2 linked regions of the Homo sapiens genome follow. The protein of the gene in region 1 purifies or fractionates together with the protein of each later gene. This does not show direct contact. Each region holds a gene or a part of one and is shown on either strand. Other genes may lie near its edges. The genes, in order: RBM38 and LARS2.

What was found.
Region 2: the proteins of RBM38 (region 1) and LARS2 purify together in Homo sapiens (co-immunoprecipitation; one large-scale study listed by IntAct). This does not show direct contact.

Annotation. Positions count from the first base shown.
Region 1 is NC_000020.11:57,390,244-57,394,495, reverse strand, and holds the start of RBM38 (RNA-binding protein 38), read right to left. Parts: upstream 3,101-4,252; 5' UTR 2,915-3,100; coding exon 2,678-2,914; intron 2,218-2,677; exon of another isoform or gene 2,100-2,217; coding exon of another isoform or gene 2,004-2,099; exon of another isoform or gene 1,843-2,003; coding exon 1,719-1,842; exon of another isoform or gene 1,440-1,718; intron 1,218-1,439; coding exon 1,163-1,217; intron 1-1,162. UniProt on the Homo sapiens protein: RNA-binding protein that specifically bind the 3'-UTR of CDKN1A transcripts, leading to maintain the stability of CDKN1A transcripts, thereby acting as a mediator of the p53/TP53 family to regulate CDKN1A.
Region 2 is NC_000003.12:45,492,795-45,496,601, forward strand, and holds part of LARS2 (leucine--tRNA ligase, mitochondrial), read left to right. Parts: intron 1-2,449; exon of another isoform or gene 2,450-2,706; intron 2,707-3,480; coding exon 3,481-3,579; intron 3,580-3,807.

The sequences.
Region 1 (4,252 bases):
CAGCCAGCGGCTCCTCCCACTGCTACACTTGCACACATCCACCAATACACACGGAAGCCGGCAGGGAGCCCCCGAGTCACCCCAAGCGTTCCCAAAAAGTGGGCACAGCAACTTCTGCTGGGGCCTCTGACCCATTCACCTGGGAGCCAGGCCCCAGGGGACCCATTCACCTGGGAGCCAGGCTCAGCCGGGTTCCACAGGATCCTTGTCCACACTGCCCCAGTCAGGCAGGTTACTCCTCAAGCTGTGTCTCTCTCAATGGAATCTACGTGGTGCGCACATGCGTGAGCACACACACGTGATCAACTGGCATTAGGGATTTGGATTCAGAAAGTTCATGAAGTGCCAATGCCCTGAAAGGGGTGGTGGTCTCTGAGCTGCCTTCCCCTCCAACTCCAACCCCATCAATATGCCACGGCGCTAGGGCAGACAGCTTCCATCCATCATGGGGGTGGGGAGGCAGGCCGCAAGGCAGGACTCTTTGTATCCCTTAAGTGTGTGTGTCCCTCCCCAAGCAGCTGCCAGGACTTACTAGATGTTTTAAAAAAGGGCAGGGAGGTGGGAGGCGTTTTAGGATGGAGAAGAGTGGGCTGCGCTGCTTGTAAATGAGTCAGACTAGAAGCCCATAGGCCAGGCCACTCAGGCAGGTGGCCTCCACCCCAAACACATCGTATCTACAGCAACGTTCACAAACATCAGACCTTGGTAGCAATGACCTACTGCCACCACCTGCCCCAGCACTAGAACAGGTGAGAGGAGTGCCTGGGGAAGAACTCAGCCTGCCAGTCCCTAAGAGTCATCAGCAAACACTTCAAGAGGGCGTTACCTGCACCAGGCCCACCCTAGGCCCTCCATTCAGAGAACTCAGATGTGCTGTGACCACTCCCATTTTACGGGTGAGGAAACTGAGGCCACACACCTAGCGAAGGGAGCTGGGGTGTGTACCAAGGCAGGCAGGCTCCAAGGCTCACCATCCCCTAGGTGGTATGGCCTCTGCCAGGGATGGAGAAGTGCAATCTGCCTTCTCTTCACTCCCTTGGCTTAAACGCAATCAAATGTCTGAAAACTGTCATTTCCCCAGCCTTCCAGACCCAGGAAGCCCAAGGCCCTCTCCACTTCATCTCCACGGACTACCCACCCCAAGCCAGCCATGTCCACTCACCCGTAAGTCCGCTGGATCAAGGTGGGGTGCAGCTGCTGCACCCCAATGGCAAAGCCTAAAACGAGAGAACAATCAGGGACTTGGCCTTGCTGCACGAGCCACGTCTCAAGGGCTGCACACAGGGTGGCAGAATCCCACAAGCCACACACCTCTAGTCAAAAGGGATCATCCGCTTCCTCTCCCCTCCCAGGCCTCCCCCTTGTGAACCCCAAGGCACACCGCTGAAGTGTGGCAGTGAGTGACGCAGGTGTCAGCAGCCACTGGTGTCGGCACTCCCAACCTCCAGGCCCCATGGCCACTTCCTCCCTCCTGCGAGGACAGCTGGCAACTGGGGTGCAGTACCCTCCCTGCCCCCCGCCCCCTTCTTTGGGCCACACGCTGTGAGAAGGGGTCTAGATCCTCGAGGGGGGGATGGCTGCCCTGTGCCGGCTCTGCAGGCACATGATAGCCGACTGCCACTGCTGGGGCGAGGAGGGGGGGCCTCTTTCCACCCGACAGATACCGACACCCAATATAGAAACCGAGAAGAGCCAGGCAGGAAAACACAAGCTCTCACCCGTCTGGAGGCTCCGCGGCTTGGCGCCCAGATATGCCAGGTTCACGTTGGCCTTGCGGCCGTCGATGATGGGGTTCGGGTCTTTGCAAGCCCTCTCAGCTGCCGCCCGGTCGGCCATGGTCACCTGGTGGAGCAGAGACACATCAGGGGCTGCCGTGGGGGGAACCAGGGGCGAAAGGGGCAGACGGCTCCGCCCTGGCACCGGATGCTGCCACCCCTCTCTTCCCTTCCTCTGAGGGTGCCTGTGACCCAGGGTCCTTGAGCCAAAGCTCCTCTGAACCCTACCTGGGGCTCTCCCACAAAGATGCCTCCTGGATTCCAGCTCCTCCCGTCAAAGTTCAAGGCCTGGGAAATGTGGCCTTCAAGGACAAAAATAATCCCCTGCGGGGATAGGGCAAAAATGAACCCCGAAGGGAGCTTGGGGGGCCGCCTGGACTTGCCCACCAGTGAGGGCCGAGACTTTCCTCTGAGAAGGAGTTTGCGACGCTATGCTTGGAAGGTAAGCAGGAAAGTGTCTTCAAGACGTTTTTACTTAAGCTGATGTTTATTTGGGGCGGCTGAGAGGGCTGTTAAAAATATGGGGGAGGCCGAAGAGCTCCTAACACCCCGGGGTGGAGCCATTGCTCCTCACCCCCCGCTGCTCCAGGAAATCCCGAGTGCCCTCTGGCTCCAAAACCTCCCCACCAACTTAGGAGTCCTAATTGAACACAGCGGCTCTTCCTTTTAAACCGGGGGTGGGGGTGGGGGTGGGGGTGGGGGTGGGGGCCGGGGCCTGGGGTGGTGGGGGCGGGACCGGCAGGAGCGCGCCCGGGAGAGGCGGCAGGTGCGGGCGCCGGCTGGAGGCGCCTGGGGCGGGGGCGGCAGCGGGCCGTCTGGGCGTGTGCCCCGGAGTGGACTCGGCGCCCGGGCCGCGATAAGGTGTGCGGCGGGGTGCGGGCCCGGGCGCGGGGGCCACTTACGAAGCCGTAGCCGCGGGACTTGCCCGTCTGGCGGTCGGTGATGACCACGGCCTCCTCGATGTCGCCGAAGCCCTCGAAGTACTTCCTGAGCGAGGCGTCGGTAGTGTGGTACGGCAGGCCGCCCACGAAGATCTTGGTGAACGTGGTGTCCTTCTGCGAGCCGTGCATGGCGCCGGGGGCGGCCAGGGGCCGCGGGAAGCCCGCGCTCGGGGCGCACGGCGCGGGCTGCAGCAGCATGGGGGGCGCCCCGCCGCCTACGGACCCGGGCCGCGCGGGGCTGCGCTCATGGGGGGCGGCGGGGAGCGCGCGGGGCAGCGAGGGGCGCCCGTCCAGCCGCCAGGCCCGACCACTCCGGCGCCCGTCCCGCCGTGCGCGCCGACGTGCGCCGCGCTGCGCTCCCGACCGGCGCTGCGGGGACTCTGCGCCCCGGCACCGCCCCCGGGCTTTGTAGCCTGCCGCCCCCGCCAGCTCAGCCCCGCCCCCAGCCGGCCCCGCCCCGCCCCGGGCGCGCGGGGACCGCCGGGAAGCGTAGTTCTAACCCCGCCCAGCCGCACCCGGGCGCGCGGCGATTGGGGGGAGGGGGGAGGGGAGCGCACGCGGGCTGAGGGCGGATCCGGGCCTGGGGGCGCTGGGCGCGCCTTTCTCTCCTGGCTGCCCCCGCGGGCCCGGCCGGTTGCAGGCACTAAGCACAACCCTGAACTAGGGAGGCCAGGCCCCTTCCCTCGTGGAGCGCACCGTCTGGTGAATTAAACGTAAAAAACGTAAAAAAACGTAAACGGTTTTTAGCATCTTGTTAATTGAGTCGGTATTTAACCCAGGGCGACTTAGGGAAGAGCCACGTGCCATATTAAAAAAGGGAAATGATTTCTGTTTTATATGTAAGATTAGTTCATCCGACCGATATTTACTCTGGGCGCGAGGCTGCAGCGGAGCACAGATCATATTCCCTGGCCCCACGGAGCGTCCAGGACTGAGAATTCGGCTAGTAAACATACAGCATACGACCCCGGAGGGAGCTACACCACGGTGCCGCGATAGAAGCGGGTCCCGGGCGGTCTCAGAGGCCCCGCGGGAGATGAGGTGGGCAGAGGAAGCAGGTGTGGGCTCTTTCCAGCTCCACCCCGTTCTGGGCTGGTGTCAGGGACCCTTGGGGCGAGTAAGAGCAGACCCGGGTCCCTCATCCGGCCCCCAGCCATAGAAAGGCGGCGCATAGTGGGGCTCTGTGAGCTTCACACCAGGCAGGGCCAGCCACAGAATTTTCGGGGCCCAGTGCAAAATGCAAACGCGGGGCCCCTTATTCAAAAGCTAGGAATTTCAAGTTGGCAGCGGTTGAGCATGAAACTCAGCCCCGGGCTTTCCTGAGCGAAGGGAAGGGCCGTGTGACTGCACAGACCCCGGGATCCCGGACCTGCGGGTCACACCCTCCACCTCTGAAGCCGGGACTAGGGGCCTCAAGCCCGCCTCATCTCCAGCCCCCGCGGTTGGGACCTATGCAGCTGGGAAACAGCAGCTCTAATTGGGGTCACTCCCGGCCCCAGCCCTGCGGCCTCCTCTCAGCACAGGGCGACGCAGGTG
Region 2 (3,807 bases), on another chromosome or scaffold:
GCCAGGGACTTGCCAGCCATCCTCCCAGGTCCTCACTGAGGCAGTTTTGAAATTCAAGGTGGAACTTGGAGGGAGGTATATAGGAAGGCCCAGACCATTTTAGGGTAGAAATGTTGGCTCCAGGAGGAAAATAGCACACCCTCTTTGTTGATAAGCGCTGACAAAGGGCTTCCCTACCAGAGATGTTGGTGGCCTGCATACAGCACAGCAGTTGTGGCCTTATTGATGAGGATAAGGTTTCCTGCTTGGCTGCAGAATTACTGGAGGGCAGAACCTAGGCCTTGGTGTTGGGCAAGGCTCCCTGGATGATCTTTTTTTTTTTTGAGATGGAGTCTCGCTCTGTCGCCCAGGCTGGAGTGCGGTGGTGCAATCTCGGCTCACTGCCAGCTCCACCTCCCGCGTTCACACCATTATCCTGCCTCAGCCTCCCGAGTAGCTGGGACTACAGGTGCCCGCCACCAAGCCCGGCTAATTTTTTGTATTTTTAGTAGAGATGGGGTTTCACCGTGTTAGCCAGGATGATCTCCATCTCCTGACCTCGTGTTCTGCCCGCCTAGGCCTCCCAAAGTGCTGGGATTACAGGCGTGTGCCACCACGCCCAGCCCCTGGATGATCTTAATGAGCATCCAAGGCTGAGAGCTACTGAGCCAGTGTGGCCGAGCAAGGCAGCCCAGTGGTACAGACTACAGGCACCAGAGCCCACCAGATGTGGATTCCTTACCCTTGAACTACAAGACCTTGGACAAGGTTCTTAACCTCTCTGAATCCTAGTTACTCATCTGAAAAATGGGGATATGAGCAGTATCGGTCTCATAATCCCCAGGGCTACTGGGGATTAAATGAGATAATACTTCTGCGGTACTTGGCTCAGTTCCTACTACCCAGTATTATTATTATTACTATTGGAGCTAATCCTGATAACATTATCACCATTATCTATCACTTCTATCCCTCCTGCTTGCCACGTAGCTTCTTCCTTATCATCTAGTTTTTAGTATCAGCAATAAAACATGTTAGTTGCCTTCAAGTCCAACAAGACCATTAAAAAGGAAATCAGCATGGCAAATGTTAGCCAGCTGTTATTCCTTTTATAAATTGAGCCCGCATTTTCTCCCTCACTTGGACCTCACTTGCACAAGGTAAGTGAGGAAGATGAAGTAATCTTTATTTTCTAATTATTTCCCAAAGTAGTGTCTGTGTTCTGGTTGATTGCTCTCCAAATAAAAAGACCTGGCTTCAATTTAGAGGCGCACTGTTGAGATCAGCTTCTTAGAGCAGCCCTGGGTGGTAGGAAGCTGGGTTCCCCGAGGGCTCTCTCTGAAAAGCTTCTACTCTTAGAGACCACCACTGTTCTCATTGGGAGGTCCCCTGATTAAAATGCAGGGGGTCCCAAAGCCCTGCCAGATCTAGGGCGCCCATGCTCTCTGCTCAGCCACTGCATTTAACCAGCTGACGAGGGAGCTGGAGGACTATGTGGGGGACTGGCCATTTCCTTGGGTAATATTTGTAAAGCTGGTATGAACTACTTCACAAATGGAAGACAGAAATACAACCCTTCTTTTATTCTTAAATTAAAAATACACTCAAGCCCATACATGCTAAATTAGCAGAAGATTTATCAGTTCCTCTTGGGATTCCTCATCCCTTCTCCCCAAATTCTCCAATAACACCCAAAGACTTACACTGCCCAAAGCGCAATATTTGGAGGGGCGATGAGCTTCACATCCATGCCTTAGAAGGGAGAGCCTGCTATGGCTTCCCACTGCCACAGAAGGCCCTGTTGATAGCTGGTCCTACCCATCAGACAGAAGGTGCTGGTTCTCTGCTGATCCAGGCCTTGAGGAGTCTCCAAGGCAGCTAATCCCCGTCCTGTGCTAGGCTTGACTAAGGGCACCTTCTTTTGAGTTCCTAGGTAGTGTGGCTTTTGGCACCTGGTTCCTTCAGTCCCACAGGCCCACAACTCTAGGAATGTTCTTAAGAATGAGTGTAGCAGCTGGGCATGATGGCTCATGCCTGTGATCCCAGCACTTTGGGAGGCTGAGGCAGGCGGATCACTTGAGGTCAAGAGTTCGAGACCAGCCTGGCCAACATGGTGAAACCCTATCTCTACTAAAAATACAAAAATTAGCCGGGCATCATGGCATGCACCTGTAATCCCAGTTACTCAGGAGGCTGAGGCAGGAGAATTGCTTGAGCCTAGGAGGCAGAGGTTGCAGTGAGCTGAGATCGAGCCACTGCACTCCAGCCCAGGTGACAGAGCCAGACTCCATCTCAAAATAAAAATAATGAGTGTAACACTTGGGCCCTTGTGAGACCTTGGTCCTGCTGGACATGTCTGTCCCTAGGACAGGGATTCCTTTTTCTATGCAACCCTTCACATATCAAGGATCTCACTTTATTCTCTGTCTTGAACACCAGGGCTTTCTTCACTCTTCCATAAGGAACCTACCTTTAGGCAGTGGTCTCATGGTAGATATGTAATTAGCTTTGGAGGGGGGTCCTGATTTCTAGCATTTGCCAATTTCCGTGATGTACATACTCCCATCAGGGCCAGTTTCAAGCTACCAACTTGCCATCTTTTGTCACAGTGTTGTGAAGAGATGCCCCAATTGATTCTTACAGGCTGGCATGAGCTGGAGCAACCATTGCCTTTGGGGCTTCCAAGTTGGTTTGTCTTCCTCGAGTCATCCTGGTAGATTTCTGCACCTGTCACCCCAGAACAGAAGTAGAAGAAAAATCCAAGTTGATTTTCCACACATCTCCCTATATTTGGTTCTCATTTGTCTTCATGCATTGATTGGCTTCATAAGCATCATAAAGTAGGCATTGGCGAAGGCAATCTTGACATGCCTGGAACAGAAGTTAAGGCACAAAAGAGATACCTAATCCTGTCTTGTCCTTTTGGATGGTGAGGCTTTCTACCAGGTTAAATTCAGAGAAGTGGAAAATAAGGCTTTTAATTGTTGAAAATTGAAACTTTTATTTGTAAATAAATTTCTTTAAAACATCGCATACTATACAATATAAAAAGAGAGCTTTCCCTGAATTGTCTTTTCATATGTGGCTTTATTCTTTTTTTTTTTTGAGACAGAGTCTTGCTATGTCACCAGGGTGGAGTGCAATGGCACGATCTTGGCTCACTGCAACCTCCACCTCCCGGGTTCAAGCCATTCTCCTACCTCAGCCTCCCAAGTAGCTGGGACTACAGGCACACGCCACGACGCCCAGCTAATTGTTCGTATTTTTAGTAGAGATGGGGTTTCACCATGTTGGCCAGTATGGTCTCGATCTTTTGACCTCGTGATCCACCCACCTCAGCCTCCCAAAGTGCTGGGATTACAAGCGTGAGCCACCACACCCAGCCTGTGGCTTTATTCTTATGACATTTTAAATTCATACTTATAGCTCTCTCAAAAGCTGATGGAAAACTGCATTAAAATTTAAAAAGAAACCAATTGATGAATTTCATTTCTTTCTTAGGTGCAAGGGAGCAGCCAAGAGAGAGACAGACACGATGGATACCTTTGTTGATTCTGCTTGGTACTACTTCAGATACACTGACCCTCATAATCCACACAGGTAAAACGTCCCTGCTGATGTCTTTGAGCATTTGTCAGTGTGGCTCCTCCTAGAAGCAAAGACCAAGATGGAATTAGACATGCAAGAGATTTCTTGGGGGGAAATGCCTGTGCAGATTAAAGGGGAGAAGAGGAGGAGTGGGCAGAGAGTGCTCTTAGACCACGATGGAGCTGTGACAGGTGTGAAAGGAGAAGGGAAAGGAAGGAGGATCAGGTGGAGGAGCCTCAG